Linked DNA regions of Homo sapiens: all the other regions are linked to region 1. Evidence: fine-mapped expression QTL. A gene starts in region 1. Each other region holds a variant in brackets. All regions are shown on one strand. Distances are from middle to middle. Region 1 holds the start of SP3 (Sp3 transcription factor). Region 2 has its middle 25 kb from the start of LINC01960. Region 3 holds the start of LOC105373746 (a long non-coding RNA gene).

What was found. PIP is the estimated chance that this variant, and not a neighbour inherited with it, causes the effect.
Region 2: its variant is the best candidate, but not a certain one, in a credible set for the expression of SP3 in tibial artery (GTEx, PIP 0.65).
Region 3: its variant is the best candidate, but not a certain one, in a credible set for the expression of SP3 in whole blood (INTERVAL, PIP 0.75).

What each region holds. Positions count from the first base shown.
Region 1 is chr2:173,959,807-173,968,763 of GRCh38, forward strand. SP3 (Sp3 transcription factor) reads right to left here and starts at 5,567. Exons shown (of 7, transcript NM_003111.5): 1 at 5,359-5,567; 2 at 4,599-4,747; 3 at 3,955-4,077. The coding sequence starts at 5,365. RefSeq lists enhancers at 3,258-4,081, 4,082-4,904 and silencers at 3,765-4,014, 4,145-4,634, 4,965-5,244, 5,745-5,814.
Region 2 is chr2:173,995,243-174,005,590 of GRCh38, forward strand. No RefSeq gene overlaps it. Among named protein-coding and RNA genes, the nearest start is that of LINC01960, 25 kb to the right of the region's middle. The variant G/A (reference allele first, on the strand shown) is at 4,876.
Region 3 is chr2:174,055,695-174,066,042 of GRCh38, forward strand. LOC105373746 (a long non-coding RNA gene) reads right to left here and starts at 6,937. Exons shown (of 3, transcript XR_923589.3): 1 at 6,710-6,937; 2 at 6,224-6,340; 3 at 5,056-5,237. RefSeq lists an enhancer at 7,201-7,820. The variant GA/G (reference allele first, on the strand shown) is at 4,934.

The DNA of each region.
Region 1 (8,957 bases):
CTAGTATTTGGTTTAGAAGCAAGATAATCCTCTACATAACCTATGTCTACGTAAGTTTACAAACCAAATTAAAAATCCACCAGTGTTTCTCTCAGTACCTTTCTTACCGGACAATTAACAAACAAAACCTAGGCAGGTGGATCCTTTGAGTCTAGGAGTTCAAGACCAGCCTAGGCAACATGGCGAAGCCCCATCTCTACAAAAAATACAAAAATTAGCCAGGCGTGGTGGCACGTGCCTGTAGTCTCAGCTACTAGGGAGGCTGAGGTGGGAGGATCAACTGAGCCCCAGTGGTTGAGGCTGCAGTGAGTTGTAATCACACACCTCCATTCCAGCCTGGGAGACAAAGCGAGCCTTTCTCAAAAAACAAACAAAACACCATCTAACATGAATGTTGGCATTAGTACAGTAAAAAGTTGTAACTAAGGCACTCTAAGTCTCTCTACATACAAATATACCGGTGGAAACGGAAAAAGAAAAAATTCACACCACCTATTGCATAGCATTTGGAAATGATTATTAACTTAGTTCCCACGAATGCCTTTACGAAAGCCAGAAATAGGAAAGGAAGGAGTATAACTGGAAACAAGAACAGGTGTGAAGCTGAGGTGGAAACAAATTAAGAACTTAGGCAAATATTCAAGTTTCTTAAAATCTTCAAAGAGCACTAAAAGAACTCAGACTTCAAATAGAATTACCCTACCCAATGAATTAGTTACAATGACAGCACAGGTCTTATTTTAAATAATGGCAAAATAACTTTTTTGAAGTAAGCTATTACTTATTTTTTAGCTCAACATTTATGTGCCAAATTAAGGAACACTAAATTTACAACCTAAACCAAAGATCAAGCAATCACTTTCATAATAGTCACTTATTTTAGGCCAGGCGCAGTGGCTTACGCCTGTAATCCCAGCACTTTGGGAGGCCAAGGTGGGCAGATCATGAGGTCAGGAGATCGAGACCATCCTGGCTAACACGGTGAAACCCTGTCTCCACTAAAAATACAAAAAAAAAAAATTAGCCGGGCATGGTGGCACACGCCTGTCGTCCCAGTTACTCGGGAGGCTGAGGCAGGAGAATGCTGTGAACCCAGGAAGCAGAGCCTGCAGTGAGCCGAGATCGCGCCACTGCACTCCAGTCTGGGCGACAGAGTGAGACTCTGTCTCAAAAAAATAAAAATAAAAATAAAAGTCACTTATTTTATTCCACTAAAGTAAAAATGAAGTAAATTAATAATCCACAAGTTCACATAAATGCAAACTGGTCAAAGTTAATACTTGCACAAAGGTCTACTTTTTTCTATTTCCTGGTTTACTACTAAAATTAGCCACAACTTAAGTACAAAGGAGCGTTGCTATAAAACCATCTTTCAGAGTCCATGTTGTACGACATTATATACGAGACTGCTTTATGACTAGACTTCTTCAGCAATGTACTGTGGGTAACCAAACACCCTTGGCTAGGATCCTCTTTTATGACAAATTCCAAATTCAAAATCCAAATATTAAAAGCAATCTTCAGCACAGTTGATTGGCTTTTCAAGGCCCTTTTAATCTCAAAATACCAAGCTAAACTGGCATAAAGTTCATCTGTATGTGTATATTTCCACTTGTTTAAACACAACAATATATATGCAATGTGGAATCCTGGACTGGATCCCAGAAGAGAAAATGGACATTAGTGGAAAAGCTGGTGAAACGCAAACAAAGTCTGGTTAGTAATGTCATACCAATGTTCATGTCTTAATTTGGACAAATGTATCATCATTATCCTAACATTAGGGGAAGCTGGATGAAGGGTATGAGATTACTCAGTTCTGTATTTCCAACTTTTCTATAAATTTAAAATTATTCCAAAATACAATTATTTAAAAACACAGCTATAACCTCTCATAATTCCCAGTCATTTGAGTAATAAAAGATTATCTAAGCCCATGAACTCATGTGAATTTCCTTTTCTAAGATGTGCTGAAAAGATGTCTTAAGTTCATATTTGCACTGGAAAAATAAATTTTTAGCAAATTTTCTATTTGCTAAGGCAAATACACACAAGCCAGTCTTACCAATTTTACTCAAAGTGAAAAATCTTGGGTGCAGGTACCAGACATCATAAATATATGGTTTGGGTTTTTTTTTTTTTTTTTTTTTTTTTAGGCAAAACTATTTTCATTTTACTATGATTGGCAAATTATGATGTATTTGATTGATAAATCTCAGATTTATCAGATTGATTCTAGTTCGTCTTCATGTGGCAGAATATGTGTTGTCAGGAGTGATTTGGTAATTCAGAAAAGCAGCTGAAGAAGCATGGAAACTTCCCTACAAGTATATGGCCACAGCTGGCTAAGGTTGGAGACAGTATTCTATCCTTGGGCCTCAGACTCACATATGTATGTACATACACATATTATTCACCCATATTTCCTTCCTTCTCCCCTCCCCCATCTGTAAACTGATATCTAAACTTTACAAATTACAGTTACAAGAAAAGTTTTGTTCCATTTGAAATACAAAAAAGATCAGGAGAAGCAATCTGCTTTTTAATTTTACTTATGCAGTAGTTTTTTAAGATACAGTCAATTTGTTTTGGCACTTTGGAACTAGAGGGATACAGTTCATAAAAAAATCTACCAACTCTCAGCGAAGCTGAAATGAGGTGAACAGAAGGCGTACCAATCCATAAATGTATTTAAAAATAACAAAGCCTAATATAATTTTACATTTTTACATGTTAATCTGCTTATGAAAAAACAAGACATTAAAACTATTCACATCCCCTATAACGAAGCACTAAAATTACAAATTATTTACCAGTAATAGCTTAACATTGGTTTAACTTAAAAAAAAAAAATACCTGGACATACTAAGCATTTGTTGTAGACTATACCAAATACCAAACTTCTGTCTTCAGTGACTATTGAAAGTATCACTCCACAAATCAATTCCTATGATCCACCACACACACACACTCAAATGAGGGTTTTCATTATTTTAATAGGTGAACAAATCTACACAACAGTGATGACCCAAATGTAAAATTCACAATTAACAGTCTAAAAACTGTTCCTATCCTATTGGTATTAACCCCTCATATAACACAGGCGAGCTCCTCCCCTTGCCCAGACACTGAAAACACTACAGAAAGAATCCCACCATATCTTACCTGACTAGCAGTCGTAATAAAATGAAAACATACTTTTGCCAACCAAATTCAGCTATAAGTATTGTACTACTAGTATGCACGTAAATACAATTCCTTACACATACTTTTCTAACACTGTTATATTCAGTTTCAAAATCTAAAGTACTATCTAAGCAACTTGCTGATTTCAAAGGCTGCTAAATGTTTCATTTACCCCCCTTACAAAAAAAAAGTCACTGCAAATTTTAGTAGTCTGCAAAAACTAAAATTCAACGATTTTGAATGGTCAACTAAAAAAGCAGTCTTCACTCCTGCATACAAAAGGGTAATTCAAAGAATAAACCCTCATTTTTTTTAATAATGTATGATTTAAAGCAGTAAGATCCTGTAACGTCCAACAGAAAATGCTCCAGGTTCAAAAATAATAAAAACTAAAGACATTGCCTCTAGTTGATACTATCTATGGCCGATAGGCTGTGCTTGAAAATTTTGTAGTGTTAAGCGAAGGAGTTTTCAGCACTGATATGAATTGCTCAAACATCCATTTTGGAGTCCTCTACCCCCGCCCTCTCAGACTTCATTTTGTGAAGATTTTGCGCGAGGTGCTGCAGTGACAATTTCGAGAAAGCCTGGGCTGGCTTCAGATCCAAACCGGGATGCGAAAGAGCAGGAAAGGGCGCCCTGGAGCCCAGCGGCCCGTGCGGGTCGGGGGAAGCGCGGGCGCCGGGGAGGCCTTTTGGGCAGGCGCGCCACGGGTCCGGGATGGCGGGCGCCCGGCCTCGGCGGGGGCGGGCCGCGCGCGGGACTTACCGCTCCGGCGGCGGCGGGGGCCCCGGCTGCGGCGGCCGCCTCCTCCTCGTCGTCGCCCGGCGATGGCGGCCCTATCTTGCTGCAGGTAGCGGCCAGCAGAGCGAGCGGTGACGGCTGAGTGTCCTACCCCCAATGGGCGGGTTCAGAGAGGGAGACAGGGGGAGGGGGTGGCGGTTAGGGTCGGGCCGCCTTTCGCACAGGAAGTACGACTCGGTCCCCGCCGACTGCGCCCGGGCAAGCGCCAGCCCGCGCTCTCCTCCTCCTCCTCCTCCTCCTCCTGGTCCCGCCGCCAGCCCACGCCTGGCGTCCCCCGCTCCAAGCACCCCGGCTCCCCGGTCCGCGGGCAGGCGGGCGGCGGGCTGCGCGCCGGGCCTCCGCCTTCCGCCCGGAACCCACCCCCGGGAGGGCACGCTGGGGCCCACACTCACACGCGCACAAAAAGGCGGCAGGCGGGCGAGGCGGGGCGGCGCGGGCGGGGTCGGAGCGTTGGCGCCTCGGGCGGGCAGCTCCCGGGGCGGGGGGAGGGGAGTGGAGGGGAGGGGAGAGACGAGGAGGGAGGGGTGAGGCGAGGAGGGAGGGGAGAGGCGAGGGGAGGAGAAAGCGGCGCGAGGGGGGAGCCGGGCCGGGGTTCAGCCGCTCCTCACCTGGGCCGCCGCTGCCGCCGCCACCGCACCGTTTCCGTGCTGTTGCTGCTGCTGCAGATACTCGCCGTGGCCGCCGCCGCCGCCACCGCCGCCGCCGCTATCCACGTCCAAGGCAGCCATTTCCTCTTGTTTCACGGGCTTTTCGGGAGCTGCAGGCACAGCGCGGGGGGGTGGGGGTGGGGAGGAAGGCGGGTGGCGGAGAGGGAGGGGGCCCGCGGGCCGAAGCGAAATTACTCCCAAAGCCCGGACCCAGGCCCCTTCCCCTCCCCCACCCGCCCCCCGGCGGCGGCGGCGGCGGCGGCTCCCTCCTCCCCTCCTGCTGCTGCCCCCGCCCGCCGCTGCCTGTAACCCTCCTCCTCCTCCTCTTTCCCTCCTCCTCCTCCTCCCCGCGCTGCCCCTGCCCCCTCTCCTCTCCTCCCCTTTCCCTTCGCGCCGCTCGCTCTCACTCGCGCTCGCTCCTCTCGCACCGTCAGTCACTCACACACGCCCGCCCGCGCCCGCACACAGGGGGATGCGCTCCCGGCGGACCGGGCCGCCCGCCCCGGGGCCTGGCGGGGAGACGGCGTTGCTGGGGCTTCGGGGGTGGACGGTGGCTGGCGGGGAGGGGAGGGAGGCGCAGGGGAGTGCAGCTTTCTGCCTCTCACAGACACTCGGTCGCACACACGGGGCCGAGACCGGCGGCAGCGGCCCCGGGCTGGCTGTGGTCGGCGGCAGCGGCGGCGGCGGCAGCAGCAAGGGTTGCTCTCTCGGCTTTACGTACCGGTCATAGTGTGTTTAGGGCACCTCAGGCGGGGCTCCCCGCCGCCTTACACATGGTGAGGAGCGAAGGCGGCGGCGGCGGGAGAGGATGCGGGAAGCGGCGGCGGACACGGCCGGAGCGGTCCGGGGATTTTTTTTTCCTATTTTGATTGACTGTGCGGGAAACACAAAAGGTGGAGCCTCCAGCCCAAAAGGGGGGAAGAGGGTGACAGCCCGCCCGGAACTCCCGCCCCTCTTCTTGGCTCTCATTCGCCGCCGTGCTCTTTGTCGGCTGTGCTCATTGGTCCAGGCGCCTGTCCGTCGGTCTGCCAGGCGGCGCGCTTCCTGTTTGCCCCCGGGTGGAAGGGGAGAGACAATGAGCGGCCGTGGCAGCGTAGGTTTTCGAGAGCGGCTACGGCTCGCCGGTTACCCCGCTGTGCCCGCCTCCCTCGCCGGCTGCCGCTGCCAGGCCCGAGGCGCAGGCCTCCTCCACCTTGCAGGCGCTCGGAGCAGGCCTAGCCAAGCTGTAGGGGAGCTGAGCTGGGGAGGAAATTCGTCCCCGGTGACTCCTGCTCCACTGGACGCTTCCTCCATCCCGGCAGCAGTCTTGGCCGGATCTCCCCAGGGCCTCGCGCTCTTGGAGCCGCCGCTTCCCTGCGCTGCCAGGAGGCCACCGCTGCTCAGCCCCGGGGCTGCTGCTGCGGCCGCTGCCGCTACTGAGCAAACCAGACCCGCCCCACGAGCCCGGGGGGAGGGAGCTGGTATTAGGGGAGACACCCCCTCCGAGGCTGGAGGAGGATTTTTCTCTCTCACATCCAGCTTCCTGATTCAGTCACAGCCATCTCGCTCCCAGCCCCCTTAGCCCCAGTTTTCCAACCGGTCTCCCACTTTCACGTACCCTGAAGGCAGGCATTTAAAGCAAAAAAGAAATCTCAAGTCACCTCACATACGGAAGGAGAGTTTTAATTTTGGCCAGTGGCACCAAAACGGGCACTTAAAAGTATATTTCATTTTACTTGTGGTATGTGTATGTATTCAGTGGGGCAGAATTCTGTGTTTTAAAAAATCGGTCACATAACCATTTTGCTGCACAAACGTATTATTCCCGGCCTCTTTATCCTCTTGGTACCAAGTCAGATATCTCCTGAAATAAGCCCATCAACCACTGCCAACGTTTTTTAAAGTCGTGAACCGGTGAACTACCTTTTTTCCCCCATTGGAACATTTTTGTTGTATTTTAAAATCTTGTTTCTCTTACTGGATTAGGTTAACACTCCTTCCTTCTTTGGCATCCTTGGTATCTTGCTGTCATCCTGGGGGAAAATGCTCAGGTTTTAAGTGTGTGTTTTGCCAACTAAGAGACATCTCTCCCTGTTACCTTCAAGTATAGTTGCCAAGAAAGAAGTTAAATTCAAGAGGTGGAAACACTGTCCACAATACCTGTTTTTTAGAAATCTGGCTCAAGATTCAGTTTTCCCATTACTGTGATTATTATATTTTGTGTGATATGTGATGTGCTGGTGGATGAGGTTGTGAAGTCCAAGCACTTTAACCAGATTTTGTGTGTCCTAACTTAATAGGTAATCCATTTGTGAGATACTGAGTTTACATCCCAGTTCCAAAGCACTTAACCGCCTATGCTGACAGGATCAGAAACATTGTATGGTTACTTTGCTCTTAATTGTACAAAGATCAAATTTCCAGGGAATTAACCTAAAAACCACAAACATGCGGAAACGAGACTCAAAATTCTGAGTCCAAGAATAGGGTTCATCTCTTCTAATAGTCCTTGTAGTCTCATATTTAAGTGGAAAAGTCACTTTCAAAGTTGAGTCGTATAACCTATGTACTATTTTACAACAAAAACTTTTAAGGAAATAAAAGTCACAAAATAACCTGATTTGGGGTGGGGAAAATGGAAAAAGAGATGGGTGCCTTGAAGAGCGGGACAGGTGAAAATAAGTGGACTGGGAGGGAGGAAGGGAAGTCACTATTATCACTCTGTTCCTACCCGGATCTCTTGGGTGGAAGGTAGCTCTTTCCCTAGAAAGGATATTTCAGGCATTTTCAGTTTTGTTTTGTTTTTTTTTTCAGGAGTGGGGATATGTTCTACGCTATCGCCATACCCTTTTTGCAAAGTGTTAGTCCAGCCACCTTGAGAGCAAAGTACTTGGCCACAGGAGTTAAATTCGTTTCTTCATTGATACCAATTGGCAAATGATATGAGACATGAATTGTCTTTTTTCTTTCTTTTTTGGGGGGTGGGGACGGCACGTCCGCAGACCATTTTGACAAGCAAAAAAAACACTTCTGAAAAAGAAAAAAATAGCCTAGCTGAGCGTGGTGGCTCACACCTGTAATCCCAGCACTTTGGGAGGCCAAGGCAGGCAGATCACTTGAGGTCAGAAGTTCGAGACCAGCCTGATTGCCATGGTGAAACCCCATCTCTACTTGAAATACAAAAATTAGCCAGGCTTGGTGGCGCACACGTGTAATCCCAGCTACTCAGGAGACTGAGACGGGAGAATCACTTGAACCTGGGAGGTGGAGGTTGCAGTGAGCCGAGATGGCACCACTGCGCTCCAGCAAGACTGAGACTGTCCCAAAAAAAAAAACCTACCTGAACTAACTATACTGCTTTTGATGCGATGCTTTTAAGAGATACATATGGAGGTAGGGTGACAGAGGTTGGTTAATTGGTACAAACATACAGTTAGATAGAAGGAATAAGTTCTAGTGTTCAATAGCACAGTAGGGTGACTATAGTAAATAGCAATATATTTTATATTCCAAAATAACTGGAAGGGAAGATTTGAAATGTTCCCAACACAAGAAATGACAAATGTTCAAGGTGACAGGGGAGAGGGGGCGGAAAAAAAATGTCCAAAGTGATAGATACCCTAAACACTCTGATTTGATCATTACAACACTGTATGCATGTATCAAAATACCACATGTACCCCATAAATATGTACAAATATGTATCCGTTTTTTAAATTTTTTAACAAAAGATGCATATACCAAAAGCATCACTCACTACTTTAGTCAGATTCAGAGAACCCTCTTAGACCACACTTGAGTTATTGTCATGGAATAGCTTTTTAAAATGGCTGGAAATGAAGATAGTCTCTTGAAAGAACACCTTTTCCTACCTATTTCAGTATTGTAGTCAAATCTTGAAATACAAATTTTTTTTTTCAATGGCATGGTCTCGGCTCACTGCAACCTCCGCCTCCCGGCTTCAAGTGATTCTCCTGCCTCAGCCTCCCCAGTAGCTGGGATCACGTAGCGCCCGCCAGCATGCCTGGCTAAGTTTTGTATTTTTAGTAAAGACAGGGTTTCACCATGTTGGCCAGGCTGGTCTTGAACTGCCGACCTTGTGATCCGCCCGCCTCTGCCTCCTAAAGTGCTGGGATTACAGGCATGAGCCCGGCCGAAATACAATTTAATTAAAATACTTATTTTCTTATTAGAAAGCTGCCTCTCAATGGCACCTACTGCTACATTTACATAGTAACCCAAAATTGCAGTTGCTTAGCAGGGAGAGAATCACAGTGCTGGATATTATTTATACTTTTTCTTCCAAAACGATTTGAGGAAGTACTGTGCTGGCCATTGTTT
Region 2 (10,348 bases), 36 kb after region 1:
ACAGCAGGGAAACATGCAAGCTATCTTCCTCACAAGAGCACCTGGATACAGAGATAATTTGAAAATATTCAGCTCAGTCTCACTACACAAATAATTACTTTGAAAAATTTTTGGTCATCAAGTCAAAGGAACCAGCCACTGGTCTAAGCAAGTGATTGCAAATGCTTTTAATGATCTTCACTGGCCTAGAGAAAAAAACCCTCAAATTAGAGCAGTTCCTTTCTCAAACTTAGGTGCATCCTCTTGCTAATAAGAGTCAAGATCCGTAAGGCAGCCCTTACATGGAAACTTCCCCAGCCACATGGCAAACTTTGGTGAGAACAATGGCAGAGTGCACTACTTTTTGGGAAGTGCCACAGTGAGTTCAGCACCAGGTACACAGAAATGAGTGGTTCACAAATATATGCTGCCTTGACTTACTAGTAACTGAGAGAGCTTCCTCCGTATGTCCTAAACAAAGTTGACACTTAGCTGCTTCCATAAACGCTCAAAGAATGACTGGAACCCCAAACATTTGTGTTCCAACACCAGTACTCAGACTATACTTTGATCACATACACCCACAGGGATTTTGTCTTTAAGAAATGCACCTAAAAATAATAATAATAAAAATAAAAGGAAATGCACCTTAGGGTTGTTGGATATTGGTAGTGTTCTATGATCTGAAGAGGATTTGAAAGTGCAGATATTTAGATGTCCATCCAATCATTCAACAAATGTTTACTGTGTGCCTACTACAAACCAGGCACTGTTTATGGCACTAAAAATATGTCAGTGAATAACACAGGCAACCCTGCCTTTGCGGAGGTTACCTTCTAGTAGAAGGAGACAGATAATAGCTAGCAAATGTAACAAATAAGTAAATTCGTAGGTTGGAAAGTGATATGTGCAATGAAGAAAAGCAATAGAGTGTAGAGGCTGCGTGTGATATCACAATTTTAAATAAGATGGTCAAAGTAGGCATTGATTGAGATGTGACATTGATGAAAGACCTGAAGGAGACAAGTGTCTATGTTGCTACTTATACTTACATTTAAAGTCCTTCCTAAAACTTCAGACTTAAGGCAAAACCAATGCATCAGCTTATATCTGGTATAAGCAAAGTTGGGGACTTGCCCTCTTATCATGAAACTAATCAGACACATATTTTATCCACTTGCATTTAACAACAAAAGCCATTAGAAAACCTAATTTTCTGAGGCAGAATGTGTTAAAATACCAACCCCCAAATCCTTTTGGTGTAACAAAGCTCCCCTTGTAAAAACTCTGGCCCTACTTGTTGGTGCCACTCTCTCTCAGGTACCATTCTTTCTCTGAAGACAACAATAACAACTGCTCTCTTATCAAGATTAAAAACAGAAACCAAATTTTTGTTGGTGATAAACAGCCAACAGCTAGTCTAAGCATTAATCCAGTAGTGTATGAATAAGTTATGAAAATTCTCTTTGCCAGAAAAACAATCAACTGTCTCACTGCTCACCTATCAGCCTTTATTTCCTACTAGGTACTATATTTATGGCTCCTATCTAGAAAAAAAGAAGTTGGGAACAATTCAAGCTTAAGTGCATATTATTGAAACTGTAAATCTCTATTCCAGATTGTAAGCTATTATCATATACTTATTTTTAAGACTTTCAGATTCCAATGTTTCTCAAATGCAGAAAATTATCTTACAAGTCAGCAGGTCAGGGTTTGATCTTGAACAGAACCAGTTTAGAGAAAGTTCCCATGGGGAGCTTTCAAGATTCCTGAACTACAACACATGTCTGAGAAATTAGAAAGTCCACAGCAAGTTTCTGTTACATGGATTATAACTGAGTTTGTGAGTGGTTGGTGTTCGCTGCCACTAAGTGGCCTTGCTCAAAGATTCTGCCCCAGGCCTCGTGTGGTAGCTCATGCCTGTAATCCCAACATTTTGAGAGGCCAAGGTGAGCAGATTGCTTGAGTTTGGGAGTTAAAAACCAGCCTGGGCAACATGGTGAAACCCTATCTCTACAAAAAATAGAAAAATTAGCCAGGCATGATGGTGTGCACCTGTAGTGAGGCAGGAGGATGGCTTGAGTCTAGGAGGTGGAGATTGCAGTGAGCCGAGATCGCACCACTGCACACCAGCCTGGGCAACAGAGCCAGATCCTGTCTTAACAAACAAACGAAGACTCATCCCCAACACCACCCCACGTGTCTACCGCCTGCCTGCATGCTTCTGGCTGCTCAGCTGTCTGCACTTCTGACTTTGCTCAACACAGCTCCGGCCTTTGCCAATCATGAGCTGCCAAGACTAGAGTGTGTGGCTGAAACACTTGAACACTCACGTGAAAGAAACTCAACTTCTGCTTTTGGGTAATTTGCTGACAGTTGCTTTATTTCCTTTTCTTCTATTAAGCAATTCTATTTGCACAGAAAAATATAATCAACAAGTGATTTTCTTAAGCAAAAGCATAAAACAATGATAATAAAATAAATGATGACAAACTTTTACAGAACCTACTCTGTGCTCACGGGCACACTTGGCAGTGTGTTGTGAGCCCTTTCAGAGGAGAAATGATAAAGAACTTAAATTTTTTAAAACTATCTTTATAAAGAAAAAGAGCACAGTTTAACTGTGATTTGAACTGACAAGAAGTACTTCTTGTTTCAAGCGAAAATACTTTGGACCACTGGGCACATTAGGTATTGAAATGTCAGGTTAACACTGAATACTCCTGTTTATTTTCTCCATCTTTTGGCAGATGCTCAATTCCAAGGCTTGGTGGAGAGCCAATGTATCCTGTTAAAGTACAGCACACACACACAAAATGGACACTTTCTTTCACAGGAAAGCTCAACATATAAACACTTTCCCTTTGACCTGTCCGTTCTCCAGGCTTCATGACTTTCTACATTCACCAAGCAGCCCTGTATCTCACCATAACCTTGACCATCCTCTTTTACTGTGTAGGCTAATTAACTGTGACAAGATGAAGTGACTTTGCCCAAGACCCAAGTGCAGGTGTCAGTACCAGACTAGAACTCAGGTCTCTGGCTCCAGGCTAGTACTCTTTTGTCCAAAGTTACACAAGTAATTAACAAAAGGTGAAATGATTTCCCCTGCTTTCCAGCTTCCAACACCCGGCTTCCCCATCTTCTCTCACCTCCTTCAATGAGAATGTCTTACTGCCGTAACACGCATTTGTACCCAGTGTCTCTTTAATGTCATCTGGTTGAGTGCTGCCTTTCCTTGCATGCAGGGCTGATATTCAAAATATTTCACAACTTGGGTGGCCTAAGCACTGACCAGTCGGAAGGAACACTGGTTTCCTGCTGGATTGAGGAGCTGGAGGCTCCCTTCCCCGCTGCAATGGATCCCCTTAGCTGCAAGTGTGTGAGGAAGTCAGAGGAATCCCCGGAAGCCCTGCTTAGAGGCAGCTTCAGAAGGGAAACTCGTGAAGGGCCCAGGCTTCTGTCATTTGTGCACCATATGCACAACCCTTCTCGTTTATTATTCACTCAGCAAATATTGATTAAGTACCTACAATGTTTAGAACCTTATGGGAAAAACAAAGTCAGTAAGACATGCCCTTATGCCTACTTTATTTCCTGGTATAATAGATAAGAAATGTACATCAATAGCTATAATTGAAATAGATTATAGCTATAATTGAAATATAGCTGTAATTGAAATAGCTATAATAGAATGTTGTTTTTTTTTTTGAAGACAGGTCCAGGAAAATGGGTATGGCAGTTGAAAAAAAAAAAAAAAAAAGAAGGATTCTTTCTGGTTGTAGATCATAGAAGGCTTCCTGGAGGGCTCGTTTCAGCTGTGGCTCTTCAAGGGTGGGGAGGATTTGGTGAGGAGGAGCTAAAATGGACAAGCAGTCCAGGCTGTGGGAAGAAGATGAGCCGCATGCACAGGTAGGAAGTGATAGGGCAGATAAAGGTGATAGCAGCAGTCCAGCCCGGCTAGACTGAAGAGCACACTGGTGGCACCTGCACGGGTGTCAGCACTGAGTAGGTATAGCAGACAGGTTAGAGTGGGGTCCACCGACCACAAGCTCCCCAGCAGCACTCCTGGGCAGCACTCTCATTTCCGCAACTAGCCAGGCACCCTTCTCCCTGGTTCTGACCAGGCTAGAGAACAAACAGGCACTTGCCAAGCAGTGTAAGGGATTACATGCCCTTTCTGGGCTCTGAGGGGCCTGGGAAGAGTTGGCAATTGAAGGCCGTGCCCAGAATCACTGCCTGGGAACAGCAGGCATTCTCCCAGGCTGCTTGGAGGCAGCCCAGTGCTGGGTCTGGCTCTAGTCCAATCCGGCTCCTGAGCTAGGAGGGAGTATGTGGCAGTGGGCGGTGGGTGCTCCCTAGTTCCTAGCACTGACTCCACTGAGCCTGTAGATGGGAAAGGGGAGGGTCAGTCAAAGGCAGATGCCGAAAAAGGGGTAAGTCGAGAACACTGGAAGAAGTCATTTGAGAAGAATGAGTGATTCTCAGACTGTTGTGGATAAAATGGAGAAAGAGATAGAAGGTTGCTTTTCCTGTCTCCTGTAGTATTTAAGGATCCCTCATGATTTAGTTCAATGAGAGAAACTAGCAACATGCTAATTGGAAAAGCCAGGGGCTCTGGAGTTCACGGATCTGGTCCAAGTCTCTTCCTTGTCAAGTGGAAAGGGCATCCTATTTACCAAGAAATGATGCAATGGCAGGGAGGGTTCACAGCTTCAAAATGAAGTCTAGGAAAATGGAAGTTAGTGAGTAATAATTTGTTGGTGCTTCTTCACCATAATGCAAGAAAGATGGTGCTCTGTTCTCCATGACGGGTAGAATCTTTGTTTGTTTGTTTTGTTTTGTTTTTTGTTTTGTGACAGGGTCTCACTCTGTCACCCAGGCTGGAGTGCTGTA[G/A]CATGATCTTGGCTCACTGCAACCTCAACCTTCTAGGCTCAAGCAATCCTCCTACCTCTGCCCCGCAAGTAACTGGGATGACAGGCGTGCACCACCACACCTGACTAATTTTTGTATGTTGCCCAGGCTGGTCTCAAATTCTTGAGCTCAAGTGATCCACCTGCCTAGGCCTCCCAGAGTGCTGGGATTACAGGTGTGCGCCACCACGCCTGGCCTGACTGGTAGAATCTTAAACAGAAATACTTGTGCCACAAATGCAGACAGGATAAGTAACTGCCCTTGTCTGAGTACCGTATTCCCTGGGAACAGCAAACTCCCTCTGTTCTTTTTCTACTCCCACCAACCCACCTTCTAATCTGCAACTCAGTTTCCTGAGTGGGCTTGCTTTAGAGCATCCTGTATCTATAAACAACCACAGTTTTCAAGCAAAGCCTTTGTCTTATTGCATTGTTTTTAAAGTTGGATTCTTAAATAATATTTTCAGAGGTCCATGAATTCTTTAGAAGAATTTTTAAATGTGGCGTTTTCATTTTAAAGATAATATAAAATTTTTAACACAAGTGTCACCACCTTTTTACAGAGTACTGCCACATAACATCAATGCCCATGCTGGATTTGCATTCATGACTGTTATGGTCAAGTGATCTAAACTAAAGTCTCCTAATGGAAGTTTGAATGCAGTGTTTCTCAAGTTGGGACATATTCAGGAATTTACGGGTTCTCACGTGTGAGAAACACTTCCTATTATAAATAATCTGACAAACTGATTTACACATCAGTCTCTTATAAGTTTGGATATGATGAATTGATCCTTTCTAGTTTAATCTCCTTGAGCACAGGGCACAGTAGTTATTGTATCTGTAAAGCTGAGGATCAGATCTGTGGTGTCCGTATCAATAAATTGCCAATCAGTGAAGCAGCCAGCCAGATTGTCTCCTCCTGAAAAGCCCTACTCTCTTCTATGTGACAGACGGATTGCAATTAGTTAATCAGACAGACTAATCTTAGATTCGAAATAGAAGACTTTTCTGACCCTGAGTAAGTCCCTTAATCTCTGTTTTCAACTTTGTAGAATACAGGCAATAAACTACTACCTATCACATGGGGATGTTGTGCTAATAATTTCAGGCTTTCTGCCATGCTGAGCTGGTCTGGCCCTGCTCCTGATACAGTGCTCTAAGGAGTTTGGCATTTGCCAAGAGACCAATTCAGTGAGATGGGAGAGGCATAAGAAAGAATGTTTTGGAAAAGTCGTCCCTGAGGTCTGAGGTCTGAGGTCTGAGGTCTAGTGCTGGTACAACTGTGAAAAGCTTCTTCAGGTGGTGCTAGAACAACAGAACATCCACATGCAAAAAAATTAATCTAGATACAGACTTTACACTCCTACCAAAAATTAACTCAATAGGGATCATAGACCTAAATGTAAAATGCAGAACTATAAAACTCCTAGAAGATAACATAGAAGAAAACCTACATGACCTCGGGTATGACAATAACTTTTTAGAAACAACACCAAAGGCATGATCCATGAAATAAATAATTGCTAAATTGGACTTCTTCAAAATTTAAAACTTCTGCTCTGTGAAAGACACTGTCGACAGAATAAGCCAGGCATAGTGGCTCATGCCTGTAATCCCAGCACTTTGGGAGGCCACGGTGAGAGGATTATTTGAGGCCAGGAGTTCAGGACCAGCCTACACAACATAGTGAGACCCCATCTCAATTACAATAATTAAAAAAAAATAAGAATGACAAAACAAGCCACAGACAAAGAGAAAATATTTGCAAAAGGCACATCTGATAAAGGATTGTTATCCAAAATATAAAAAGAATTCACAAAACCCAACAATAAGGAAACAAATGACCAAATTAAAAAATGGACCAAAGACTTTGACACCCACCAAGGAAAACATACAGATGGCAAATGAGTACACGAAAAGATGTTCCACATATGTCATCAGGGAAACGCAAATTAAAACAACAGAGATACCACTACACATCTATTTGAATGGCCAAACTCCTGAACGCTGAAAATATAAGATGCTAGCAAGGATGTGAAACAACAGGAACTCTTGTTCATTGCTGTGGGAATGCAAAATGGTACAACCACTTTGGAAGACATTTTGGCAGTTTCTTACAAAACTAAACATACTCTTACCATATGATCCAGCAATCACACTCCATGGTATCTACCCAAAAGAGTTGAAAACCTATGTCCACACAAAAACCTATGCACAGATGTTTATAGCAGCATTATTCATAATTGCCAAAACTTAGAAGCCACCAAGATGTCCTTCAGTAGGTGAATGAATAAATAAGTTGTGGTATATATCCAGACAACGGAATGTTATTCGGTACTAAAAGGAAATGAACTATTAAGCTATGAAAAGACATAGAGGAACCTTAAAAGTATATTAACAAGTGAAAGAAGCCAATTTGAAAAGGCTATATGCTGTATGATTCCAACTACATGATATTCTGGAACAGGCAAAACTTGAAGAGAGTAAAAAGATCAGTGGTTGCTAGGGTTTGGAGGGAAGAAGGAATAATAGGTGGGGACACAAAGGATCTTTAGGACAGTAAAAATACTCTGTATGACACCACTGCATAATAATATACAAAGTATATATAATTATACACTTGTCCAAACCACTAGAATGTACAACACTATAAGTGAGCCCTAATGTAAACTATGCACTTTGGATGATAGTGATGTGTCAATGTAGGTTTATCAGCTGTAACAGATACCAACCCCTCTGGTAGGGGATGTTGATAGTAAGGGAGGCTGTGCATGCGTGGAGGCAGGAGATATATGGAAAATCTGTACTTTCCTCTTCATTTTTCTATGAACCTAAAACTGCTCTTTAAAAAGTCTTAGCCAGGCACAGTGGCTCACGCCTGTAATCCCAACACTTTGGGAGACTGAGGCGGGTGGATCGCTTGAGGTGAGGAGTTCGAGATCAACCTGGCCAACATGGTGAAACCCCACCTCCACTAAAAATACAAAAATTAGCTCTGTGTGGTGACACACACCTGTAATCCCAGCTACTCAGGAGGCTGAGGCAAGAGAATCGCTTGAACCTGGGAGGCAGAGGTTGCAGTGAGCCAAGATCGTGCCACTGCACTCCCGCCTGGGCAACTAAAGTGGCCTTTGGCCTTGAATAACACCAGTGGCAGTCACGCAGATTGGCCATGGCCCTTGGGTGAACCCCAATGTTGTGCTGGTCTTCAGGGCTTCAGATGCAACTCAGCATAGTTGCAACTGTGGTGGCTACAGGAGTGCCTGTGTCACCCACCTCCAACACTGGGCAGGCCAGTACAGAGAAAGACTCCTGACTGAAGGAAAGGGAAGGTAGAGAGCAAGAGACTCTGCCTGGTAACCTGGGGAATTCTCCCAATTATCTGCCCAAGTCCATCAAGACTGTGTATGTAGGAGTAAAGTCTTTCCAAAAGTTTCTCTGGCAAACTGCATCTGAGAGACTTCTGCGACTCCGGATCAGAATAGCAGTGAGCATGCTTTTGGATGCAAGTAACAGAAAATAACCAAGGGAGCTCCTTGGTGATGTAACTGAAAGTGCAGAGGTAGATCGGGCTTCGGGTGTCGATCCAGCGGCTCACCGCTGTCCTCAGGACCAGTTTCTGCCACTCTGCCCTGCCACATGCAGCACTGGCTCCACCGTCAGGCTGGCTCTGCTTCTGGGTGTAGGATGGTGGCCAGAAACCTGCAGGCCATATGCTGTATCATTTGGGGATGCTTCTGCTCAGCATTCCAAGCCAGAATTCCAAGGTTTATCCTGAAGAGGATCCTCCTTGACATCTCTTTTCTCTCACATTCAAGTCTGTTAGTCTTTTCTCTCACATTCAAGTCAGCTGCCACTAGCCTACTGCCAGCCACCAATGTCTCCCACCCGGCTTAGCGGCTCGCCTTCTAAACAGTCTCCCTCCTTCCACACCTGTTCCCCTTACAGCAGCCTGAGTCATACTTCAAAAATGTAAGCCAGATAACGATTGGAAGCGACAGACGCTGGGGAGCCCAATAGTGAGGAGGGTGGGGGGTGGTGAGGGTTGAAAAATTATCTATTGGGTACAATGTTCACTGGGTGACGGTTTCACTAGCTCAGATCACAATATTACACAATATATCCATGTAACAAACCTGCACAGGTACGCTCTGAATCTAAAAAAAAAAAAAAAAGTCAGTCAGAGCATGTTACTGCTCAAACCCTCCAGTGGCTCCCCATCTCACTCAGGAAAAGCCAATGAACTTGCAATGGACTCCAAGGGTATGATGTGGCTCCCTTGTAACCTTTCTGAATTTAGCTCAGCCACCCTCTCCCTCTCTCACTCCAATTCAACCATCCTGGCCTCTAAATTGTTCCTGGGAAACATACCAGGTGTGTTCACCTTCTGACTGGGGACTTTACACTAGTTGTCTCCTATGCATGAGACACTTTTCTAGAGAGCCACGCTGCTCACTTTTCAGTCACTTTTTCAGTGAGGCCTACTTAGAACACCCCATTTAAAATTGCAACCTGGCCCAGGGTGGTGGCTCACATCTGTAATCTCAGTACTTTGGGAGGCTGAGAAGGATCACTGGAGTCAGGAGTTCCAGACCAGCCTTGGCAACAAAGCAAGACCTCATCTTTACAAAAAGAAATTAAAAAATAAAACACTGTGACGCCTGCAGTTCCCCACACTCACATCTTCTATCTTGCTTATTTTTTCCCCATAGTACTGCTTACCTAGTATGTTTATGGATTTAACTCACTGTTTTTCCCGGCTAGAATGCAGGGATTTTTGTCTATTTGTTTTATTGACATTTCCCTGACCCTAGAACAGGGTCTAGCAGATACTCAAAAAGTTTTGTCAAATGAATGAATGAGACTGGCTCAGGACACCCACTCTATTTCTGTATGCTTAGGGAGGAAATGCCTAAATCCGAAATGCTGGGAGTGTTTCCAAAGTAAGACCAAGCTTGATGTCTCCAGAGCTTGGAATTTGGATTCTGCTCAAGAAAAAAAACTGGTAAGAATCAACAGATAATCCAGGAGGTTAATAGTACCTGTGGTGCTTAGTTAATGTGATCATTCTTGGATCACACAAGATACCACAGGTATCCAAGATACCAAGATATCATAGATACCTTGGATACCACAGGCCTACAAATCAAAATCTCCAGAGACAGGGGTCATAAGTCTGCTTTTCTTTCTTTTTTATAACCAGCAGCCCCCAGGTGATTCTTCTAGTCACTAAAACTGAAAATAGTCCTGGACTGTATGCAAAGCCTTGGCAGGAGTGACACAGACGTGCTGTGAGACATAACTGGAATATGACTAAGAGAACTGAGATATAATAAGTGGTATTAGCACATCAGAAGCGGCCAGGAGCTGTGGCTTGTGCCTGTAATCCCAGCACTTAGGGAGACAGGATTTCTTGAGCCCAGGAATTTGAGACCAGCCTGGGCAACATAGCG
Region 3 (10,348 bases), 97 kb after region 1:
AGCCTGGGCCATAAAAGACCTATGGCTTTTGCCTTGCTCTTGCTTGAGTCACTCACTCTGGAGAAAGCCAGATGCCATGTTATGAGGGCTCCTGAGTGGCTCTGGGAAGTAGCTCCACCAAACAGTCCACATGGTGAGAAACTGAGTAGCTCCAGTTTTGCGGTCACGAGAGTGAGCTACCTCGGGAGTACTGTCTGCAGCTCCAGCCCGGCCCTTGGATTGCTGTGCACAGATGAGCTGCTTCCACCGACTTCTGGCTTGCAAAAACTGCTAGGTCATAAATGTTATTGTTGTTTGAAGATGTAAATCTGGGGTGACTTGTTATGCAGCACTGTATAACTAATACAGCACCTAATCTATAAGAGCTTTATAACTTCACAGGGGAGAAAAGATGGATCTGAATATGTAAAACTGTGAAATAAACCAGTATGTATGAACCATATACCAACTGTCACAAGTTCTGAGAAATGAGAGGAGGAAAGAAGGAGGCTGTACAGTTGACAAACAAGGACCCCCAATTAGGAGGTCAATATTAGAAGAAAAGGAGGTTCGAAGAAAGGCAGGACCACATCTTGGGTTCTCTCCATTTTTGTTTTTTGTTTATTTTTTTGAGACGGTCTTGCTCTGTTACCTAGGCTGGAGTGCAGTGGCATGATCTTGGCTCACTGCAGCCTCTGCTCCCGGGCTCAAGTGATCCTCCCACCTCAGCCTCCCTAGCAGCTGGGACGACAGGTGCAAACCACCATGCCTGGCAATTTTTTTTTTGTATTTTTAGTAGAGACAGGGTTTCACCATGTTGGTCAGGCTAGTCTCAAACTCCTGACCTCCTGATCCGCCCGCCTTGGCCTCCCAAAATGCTGGAATTACAGGCATAAGCCACCGTGCCCGGCCATTTCCTTTTTGAAGAAACCAAATTCTTGAGGAGTTTATGCAAATATTCTTTGCAAAATGTGAAATGCACTTGAAAATCAAGAATACATCTTTAGCTGGGCACAGTGGCACACACCTATAGTCCCAGCTACTCAGGAGACTGAGGTGGGAAGATTGCTTGAGCACAGGAGCTGGAGACTAGCCAACACAGCAAGACCCCAACTAGGCAACACAGCAAGACCCCATCTCTGAAAAAAAAAAACCCTAAAAATAAAAAAATAGATATATCTTTAAAACAACATGTAAGTCAAACAAACTACTTTTGGTAAGGAAATTCAGCCTTATAAAAGTGCAAAAAATTTACCAAAACACAAAAGTGGTTTACCAGTCTGTTACATACCATCATCTATGCTGGGTTGAGAAATTAAAGGATATTTATTTGTCAGATTGATTTAAATTAAAGAATAAAATAACTCAGTTCCTGGTGGGTTGGTTTCCACACTGGAGCAATGGAGAGACTCCTAAAATAAAGGTAAAATAAAGGATATCTATTTAGATGAGAGGAGGAAACAAACAAATAAAAGCTCCTCAACCAACCAGAGAAAATTAATCCCTCTTTCCAGTCTTCACTGTTTTTCATTTTGCTTTGCTTTGTTTCCTTAAGGAAATTTAAAACATAGTGGAAGTCACGATGGCATGGAAATGATGGCTGGGAAAGCATCCCGGTACCTTTTCATGTTGCCTGAATCTCGCTCAAGATATCAGTTTCCAATGGAATGGGGAAATCTGTGTAAACCAAATAGAATATTAAAGTACACGAACAAGCAGCCTGAAAAAAAAAGTTCAATAAAGTAAATGAACAAATATATAAAACAGATAGCCAACTTCACCAGTAAAGAAATGCAAACTAAACCACAAGGAGATTGAAATGTTAAAAATCGATTGGATTGGTAAAGACTAAAAAGGTTGATAATGCTCAGTAGTTGGGGGTCTGGGAATCGAGCACACCATGGGGTGAGGTGGGAACGTTAACTGGTACAACCATTTTATTTTATTTTATTTTATTTTGTTTTGATTTATGTATTTATGTATTTATGTATGTATGTATTTATTTTTTTAAGACAGAATCTCCCTCTGGCTCCCAGGCTGGAGTGCAGTGGCATGATCTTGGCTCATTGCAACCTCTGCCTCCCAGGTTCAAGCAATTCTCCTGCCTCAGCTTCGCAAGTAGTTGGGACTACAGGTGCGCACAACCATGCCCAACTAATTTCTGTATTTTTAGTAGAGATGGGATTTTGCCATGTTGGCCAGGCTGATCTCTAACTCCTGACCCCGAGTGATCTGCCTGTATTGGCCTCCCAAAGTGCTGGGATTACAGGCATAAGCCACTGTGCCCGGCCATGGTACAACCGTTTCAGACAGCAATTTGACACCACCCAGCAATGCATACCCTTTGATCCAGCAATTCCATTCCCAGGAATTTATCCTAAATGTGAAAGTATATGTAGAAGCTCAAGCATATTCACTGCAGCCTTTTGGGAATAATGGGAAAATTAGAAATCTCAATGTACACAAGAGAGGGCTGGCTACATAAACAAATAAATGAGAACAAACACGTGGTGCCTGCTTATTCTGTGCCAGCATTCTTCTAGGAGCTCTATGCACATGAAGTCACGTGATCTCTCAAGATCCCTTAGACTTGGTTCCTGTCTTAGGAGAGTTCAGCCTTACAAACAAATATCACTCAGCCATCAAAAAGCTCAGGAATAGGTCCAGATGTGCTGACACAAAAAATACTCATGACATGGAAGTGATAAAAGGAAGTTTCAGGGAAAGCTATGGAGCACAATCTCATTTATGATTTAAAAAGAGACTGTGCATACATGTTTATATTTATACAGAAAATGTCTGGAAAGATAAACCAGAAGGAAACAGTTAACAGAGAAATCCTCTGGAGAAAGCCAGGGAAGGGAGGAGAACCCTCCATTTTTTACCTAATATCTTTCTTTTTGGTTTTATTTTTAAAAAATAAAGCCCAGAGTCAGCCAAACTGCAAAGGCTGAGGTCACAATTCCTAACCCTGCTTTCATTTTGGACACTGACCTCAACTTTGGGGGATTCCCCCAAACTACTCTCAGATTGGATAATTCACTAGGAGGACCCGCTGAATTTATTGAAAGCTATTATACTCATGGTTTTGATTTATTATAGAGAAAAGATACAGATTAGAATTAGCCAAAGAAAGAGACACACAGGGCAGTCTGGGAGGCTTATCAAACATGAAGCTTCCATTGTCCTCTCCTGTGGAGTTAGAACACATTACCTTCCTGGCATCTGTGTGTGAGGATACACCTTGAGTACTGTCAACCAAAGAGGTACAAGCAAATTTCAGTGTCCAGAGTTTTTATTGGAGCTTCATTCTGTAGGCCTGATGGGTTTATTGATTGCCCACATGGCTGATCTCATTCTGAAAGTCAGCTGACACTACATGACCCAAATTCTCACCCTAAATCACACTGCTGGGTCTTTCTGGCATGGCCAGTATGTACCCCAGGATCCAGTGTGGTTATCTCATCCCCTAAACCAAGATACTCTTATAAGTTATGACTGAGGTTAATCCCAGAAGCTGAGGGCAAAGGCCAGATCACCCTCTGGGCAAGACCAAATGCTTCACTACACATTGTTAGAATGAAGACATGGAATAGCCATGTGGCTAATTGTTTTTCCACGTGCTGCCTGGTGCATGGGCCAGTTTCTAAGCTGTGTGTTTATGTAAGATGATTCATCTTCACTGAGACGCTCTGATCATGTGGACTTTTGTTTTGTGTTTTCTTAGATTCTGTATTTGTCTGTTTGGTATTCATTAGTCACAAGGCCAAATTAATGGCCATGATTATTTCTATTTCCTCTGCAATCCAGGTTTCCCAGATGCACAAAAATCATATTACAAACCCTCTAACCAATCATTTGAGTCCATACTCCCAAACACTTCCTTATCTCACTCTTACACACCAGCCAGTATTTCCTCTGCCCGAAATCACCCAGGGCCAGGTACCAGACAACTACAGACCACTCCTATAGCCCAGAGCCTGCCCAAATTATTTGAAATAGCCAATCCTACACTGTTTCTCCTGCCCCGCCTTGTTTTTCCCAAGGCAACCGCAATAAACGCTGTGGCCTGGGCTTTCTTCTCACCACTTCTCCTTCCTGACCTAACCTGGTGCTTCCCCATGTGGCCCTGCATGCATGATGTGCCCTCATCCCTTGGCAAATACAACTCATAAATTCTTCTTCCAATGACATGGCCTCTCCATGTCATCACTCAATCCCCTCCCTGAATTAGAATCTCCAGTAAAATTGAAACAACTTTTAAATCTCTGATCTACAGGCCTGGGTTTCAGTAGGTCAATAGTCCTTACTGCCTGGTGCAGGCCTGGGCTCATGCATACTTGTTAAATCTAATGAACAGTCTGGGTGCAGTGACTCATGCCTGTAATCCCAGCACTGTGGGAGACAGGGGAAGACAGTTTGCTTGAGCCCAGGAGTTTGAGACCAGACTGGGACACATGGCAAAACCCCATCTCTACCAAAAATACGAAAATTACTCAGGCATGGTGGCATGCGCCAGTAGTCCCAGCTACTCAGAAGGCTGACACAGGAGGATCGCTTGAGCCCAGGAGGTGAGCTGTGATGGGGGCCACTGCACTTCAGCCTGGGTGACACAGCAAGACCCTGTCTCAAAAAAAAAAAAAAATATAATAAATTTTACACTATCAGTTTTTGCTCTAGTGATGAAGGAGATAAATTATTCATCTTGCTTAATGCAATCAGTACTTGATGTGGAATCTGAAAATATGTTAAGCTACTTTCAGAAATGCTCATCAGCCTGCATATCTGCACTGTAAAAGTTCCGTCCTAACTTGTTCAGTGTTCTTTTATCACCCTCCTTTCTCCTCCTTCTTCCCCACACCCTGCCCCTAATTCATTTAGTTAAGCAAATAACCTGTATCCACTGCCAATAACTAAATCTGCCTGGATCACCTTAGAAGCTAAAACCCAGAAT[GA/G]AAAAAAAAAGTTATGCTTCTTTCATTTGGGCTTGTTGCATGGTTTACTTTAGGCTCTGAGTAAGTGCTATTTTATTATTGTTTTTGCTTGTTACTATCAGGGGATTTCAGGAACTGATTTTAATATAAATGCCTTAATTGTACTCTCAGGAAAAGATATGAAAACAGAAAACCTGATAAATCAGTTGATTCTGTAACTCTCCACATTGTTGTCATCTGTGAAACTGACTTAGCAGTCCCCACGATGAGGTCTGGCCATATTCCCACATTTTCAGGGACACAAGGTGTAAAGATATGAAGGAACTGGAAAGGACAAAAAGTGTGAAAAAATATCAACAAATTTAAGCCTCCAGTGATAAATATGGGTAAAGTGCTGAAGTGATAGACGAATAAGGTTAACAAAGGCCAAGCCATAAAGGATGAGGAATATTTTGGGTTTTAATAATACAGGTGAGCTTTTACAGAAAAAAAAGTTACTGCCTCAGGCAAGAGTAACTGTTTATGGTGGGTTTCCAATAATTCTCAAAGTTTGATCCAGTTAAGAACTCAAATTCTGAACCAGAAAGTTTAAAAAACATTTTAAAGAAGAAAACCTTAAAATAGCTATTTAGGCTGGGCATAGTGGCTGATGCCTATAATCCTAGCACTTTTGGGAGGTCGAGGTGGGAGGATCACTTGAGGTCAGGAGTTTGAGACCGGCCTGGGTAACATAGCAAGACCCCCATCTCTACAAAAAAATAAAAAAATAGTTGGGCATGGTGGTGGTATGCGCCTGTAGTCCTAGCTACTTGGGAGGCTGATGCAGTAGGATCACTTGAGACCAAGAGTTTGAGGCTGCAGTGAGCCATGATTGTACTACTGTACTCCAGCCTGGGTGACAGACCATGACTTTGTCTCTAAAAAATTTTTTTAATAAAATAAGATGGTTGTTTAGAAATACTGACATTCTCTTCTCTATAGATGAGTTATTAAAACATTATTTTATTTTTAATATCCCACTTAGCCAAACTGCACTAGAAAACCAGAAGAATCTAGTTCTAGAAAACACTTTGCTTTTGTAATACTCTTCGGTATTTAACAGTACTTAACAAGCTAGTAAGGAACCATAGCTTTACAGCCAAGTGGGGGATGGGGAATTGTTTTTGCTAAGCCAGGATGAAGGTGTTAGTTATATATGCTCTTGAGCATAGCAAGTTCTGTGAACTCAGATGTATCTGGAGGCTTTTAGCCACAAGTTACAGAATATTCAACTACAAGTGACTGAAATCATGAGGGCATTTAATTCTTACACAAAAGATGACGTCTGTGGGCGGCTGCTCCAACCCGGATTGGCTAACAGTCTAGGGGCTGCTTCTCTGCCTCTCGGTTTTCCTTTCCATAGCTCCAAATACAGTCCTTCATCAAATCTATTTTCAAATAAAAAAAAAGGAATGATGTCCAGCGGGCCCTGGAATTCACCCCAAGCCCTCGCAGGAGGAGGAGGGTGAATGGATAGCTTGGCCAGGCACCGTGGCTCACGCCTGTAATCCCAGCACTTTGGGAGGCTGAGGCGGGTGGATCCCTTGAGCCCAGGAGGCAAAAGTTGCAGTGAGCAACCCCTGCACTCCAGCCAGGGCAACAGAGCAAGACCTTGTCTCAAAACATTAAAAAAAAGAGACAAAATGGATAGCTTTTCTTGTCTCCCTTTTTGTATCAGGGAGGAAAAATTTCCCTGGCAAAGCTTTGCCAAGCCTGCTCCCCAGACCCTCATACTTTCCAGGCCAGAGCTGGCTCACCTGCCTAGCCCTATCACTGGCAAAGGAGAAGTGGGATATCATGATGAATTTAGAGCCATAATGATTCATTTTCTGAAGCTGAGCACACTCGCTGTCTATGGAGCAAAATGAGATTTTGTTGGCAAGGAAAAGGGGGGTGTGGTGGGTTTGTGAGACGGCGATGGTTAAACAATCAATAGTGTTTGTGATGTCTGGAGGCATTAACAGGTGAAAGGTGGGACCCTGGTCCCAATGCCTGAGTTCATCATTACTATTCAATGAGTGCATAATAAGGAAATACATCTTCCATTTGCTATATTGTGAAATTGGATAAAGCCCTCAGTCAAACCAGATATCCTACGTGGCTTTGTAGGAGTTAAGTCACAGAATAGGCTCCTTCCTTGGAAATAAAACTTGACCAAGTCTCTTCCCTAGAAATACAGTTCTTCATTAAATCTATTTTCAAGTTTAAAGTAATGATGTCCCAAGGTCCTTGGAATTCACCCCAAAATGACGCAAATACAATAAGCCAAATGGCTGAAATCACTTACACACAACATTTGACCAAAGCAAATCAGCTTGCTCTCATGCTGTGATCAGAAGAGCAGCAAACTGGAGGCTTTGTTTGAAGCAAAAAGAACACTGAATTCTAAAGACAAGGATCCTCAGGGGGAGAAGAGAGAGATTAGTAAACAGGGTTAGTTAATCCACTCAGACAAGAGCCTCAAAAGTTCAAGGGGTGGTCTGTTGCCTGCACTTCCATGGGATTTCAAAGGATTGCAGTGAGAGGCCGGGAACCAAACACGTCACTCTCCGCAGCCGCTGTCCCATTTATATCATTGATATCAGCAGCCAGGACTGCTCTATTCTACGAAAGGGATGGAACTTTCTCGAAGAAGTGTAGTTGCCCCAAATAGAGACTGCTCAGATTTGGCGGGCCTCTTGAGAGCAAGAACTGAGGAATCTTATCACAAAAATGGGAAGATAAAAGGCAGAGCCTAATGAGAGAACACTGAAACCCTCGTATTTTTTATTCCCTGGAGCAAAGTAAAGAACAGGCATAGAGGAGTCAGAGGGCCTGGTTCTCCTAGGACTGACCCCCACTGGGAAGCGCTGTAGACCGCCCAGGTTGATAAAATGTTGTCACCCTGTGAAAGCAACACAATCCAGTAACTAAAGCGTTCATGAACGGGGGGCCCTGCAGGGTTCTGTGTTAGCTCTTGGAATCTAGGTTCAAAAAACAAAAAACAACAGGGCACGTTGAAGAGGGCTGTGTCAAAATTTCTCCTTTCCCTTCACACCCACGCCTTCCACACCCACTCTGCTGATGGCGTTCACTCCAATTTCATTGAGAAAATGGAAGCTACACATCTAGCCCTGCCTTCCCTCCTATTTACTGGAAGCATTCCTGCTTCTACCAACTGTCAGTCCCTCCACCTATGCTCCAGTTCTCATCCCCTGTAGCTTCTTAAGGACTGGGTCTCTTTCGTCACCCCTCTCCCTCTTGCTTCATCAGCCTCCAGCTCTCCTCCTCTCGGGAACATTCCCCTCAACATCCAGACATGCCCCGGCACGCTCCGTTGCTAAAAAATCTACAGCCAGCCAACCAACCAACCAACCAACCAACCAACCAACCAACAAAAAAACCTCTTTGCTTCCCATCTCCCCCATTTCCATTTCTCTTGTCCCCTTTCTGGCAAAACTTCTCAAAAGAGTAATCTGAACTTGCTTTCAAATTAAACAGAACTTGTCCAGCAGCACCTTTTTTTTTTTTTTTTTTTTTTTTTTTTAGAGTCAGAGTCTTGCTCTGTCACTCGGGCTGAAAAGCAGTGGCACAATCATCACATCCAGCTAATTTTTAGTTTTTATTTTTTGATAGAGACAGTCTTGCAATGTTACCCAGGCTGATCTTGAACTCCTGGCCTCAAGTGATACTCCCATCTTGGCCTCTCAACGTGCTGGATTTTTTTTTTCTTGTTTTCTTTTTCTTTTTTTTTTTGTTGAGATGGAGTCTTGCTCTGTCGCCCAGGCTGGAGTGCGGTGGCGTGATCTCGGCTCACTGCAAGCTCCGCCTCCCGGCTTCACGCCATTCTCCTGCCTCAGCCTCCCGAGTAGCTGGGACTACAGGCGCCTGCCACCTCACCTGGCTCATTTTTGTATTTTTAGTGGAGATGGTGTTTCACCATGTTGGCCAGTCTGGTCTCAAACTCCTGACCTCAGGTGATCCGCCCGCCTCAGCCTCCCAAAGTGCTGGGATTATAGGCGTGAGCCACCGTGCCCCACCCTCAAGCAGAACATCTTTCATCTTCATTTTTTTCAACTGCTCAGCAACATTTGCTGTCTTCTTGAAACCGTTTCTGTCTCCCAGCTGCTCTGACACTAGCCTCTCTGGGTTTGCTCCTCTCTCATTGGCTTCTTCTTCTTCTTCTTCTTTTTTTTTTTTTTTTAGACAAGATCTCGCTCTGTTGCCCAGGCTGCAGTGCAGTGGCACCATTTCTGCTCACTGCAACCTCTGCCTCTTGAGTTCAAGGGATCCTCCCACCTCAGCCTCCTGAGTAGCTGGGATTACAGCTGTGCACCAGCACGCCTGGCTAATTTTTGTACTTTTAGTAGAAATGGGGTTTCACCATGTTGGCCAGGCTGGTCTTGAACTCCTGGCCTCAAGTGATCTGCCTGCCTCAGCCTCCCAAAGTGCTGGGATTACAGGCATGGGCCACCGCGCCCGGCCTCGGCAGTTTTTTTGCTGCGATTTGCTGGCCCCTCCTCTTTCCAGAGACCTTTTGCATCAGGCTCATTTCTGGGCCTTCTCCTCTTTCTGTTCTCACCTGTCTAAGGTGAGCTATTCTGGCCCTCAGGTTTTAAGTAATATCCATATAGTAATGATTCTAAATTTATATACCTGCTTCCTCAAACTTTCCTCTGAGCTTCCAATTGAGACACAACAATTGGTCTTGGTATCTACCCAGTCTGATATCTACCCAAGAGTGTTTAATGGCCATCTCCAACCTATCCTCAAGACATTGAATTGGGTTGTTCGTTTTCTTATTTTTGAGTTTTAAGTTCTTTGCATATTTTGGATAACAGTCCAGAAATGTTCTTTATCAGATATGTCCTTTGCAAATATTTTCTCCCAGTCTGTAGCTTGTCTTCTCATTCTCTTGACAGTTTTTCACAGAGAAGTTTTTAATTCTAATGCAGGCCAGCTTATCAATTCTTTCTTTTGTGGATCATGTCTTTGGTGTTGTATCTAGAAAAAGTCATCGCCAAACCCAAGCTCATCTAGGTTTTCTCCTGTGTTATCTTCTAGGAGTTTTATAGTTTTGGGTTTTACCTTTAGGTCTATGATTCATTTTGAGTTAATTTTTGTAAAAAGAGTAAGGTCTGTATGTCAAGATTTAGTTTTTTGCATGTGAATGTCCAGTTGTTCCAGCACTATTTGTTGAAAAGGCTATCTCTGCTCCATTTTATTGCCTTTGCTCCTTTGTCAAAAATCAGTTGACTACATTTATGTGGGTCTTTTTCTGGGCTCTCCATTTTGTTCTATTGATTTTTTTTTTAATCTATTTTTTCACCAGCACCACACTTTCTTGGATTACTGTAGCTTTATAGTAAGTTTTTTTTTTTTCTTTTTTTTTGAGACTGAGTTTCACTCTTATTGCC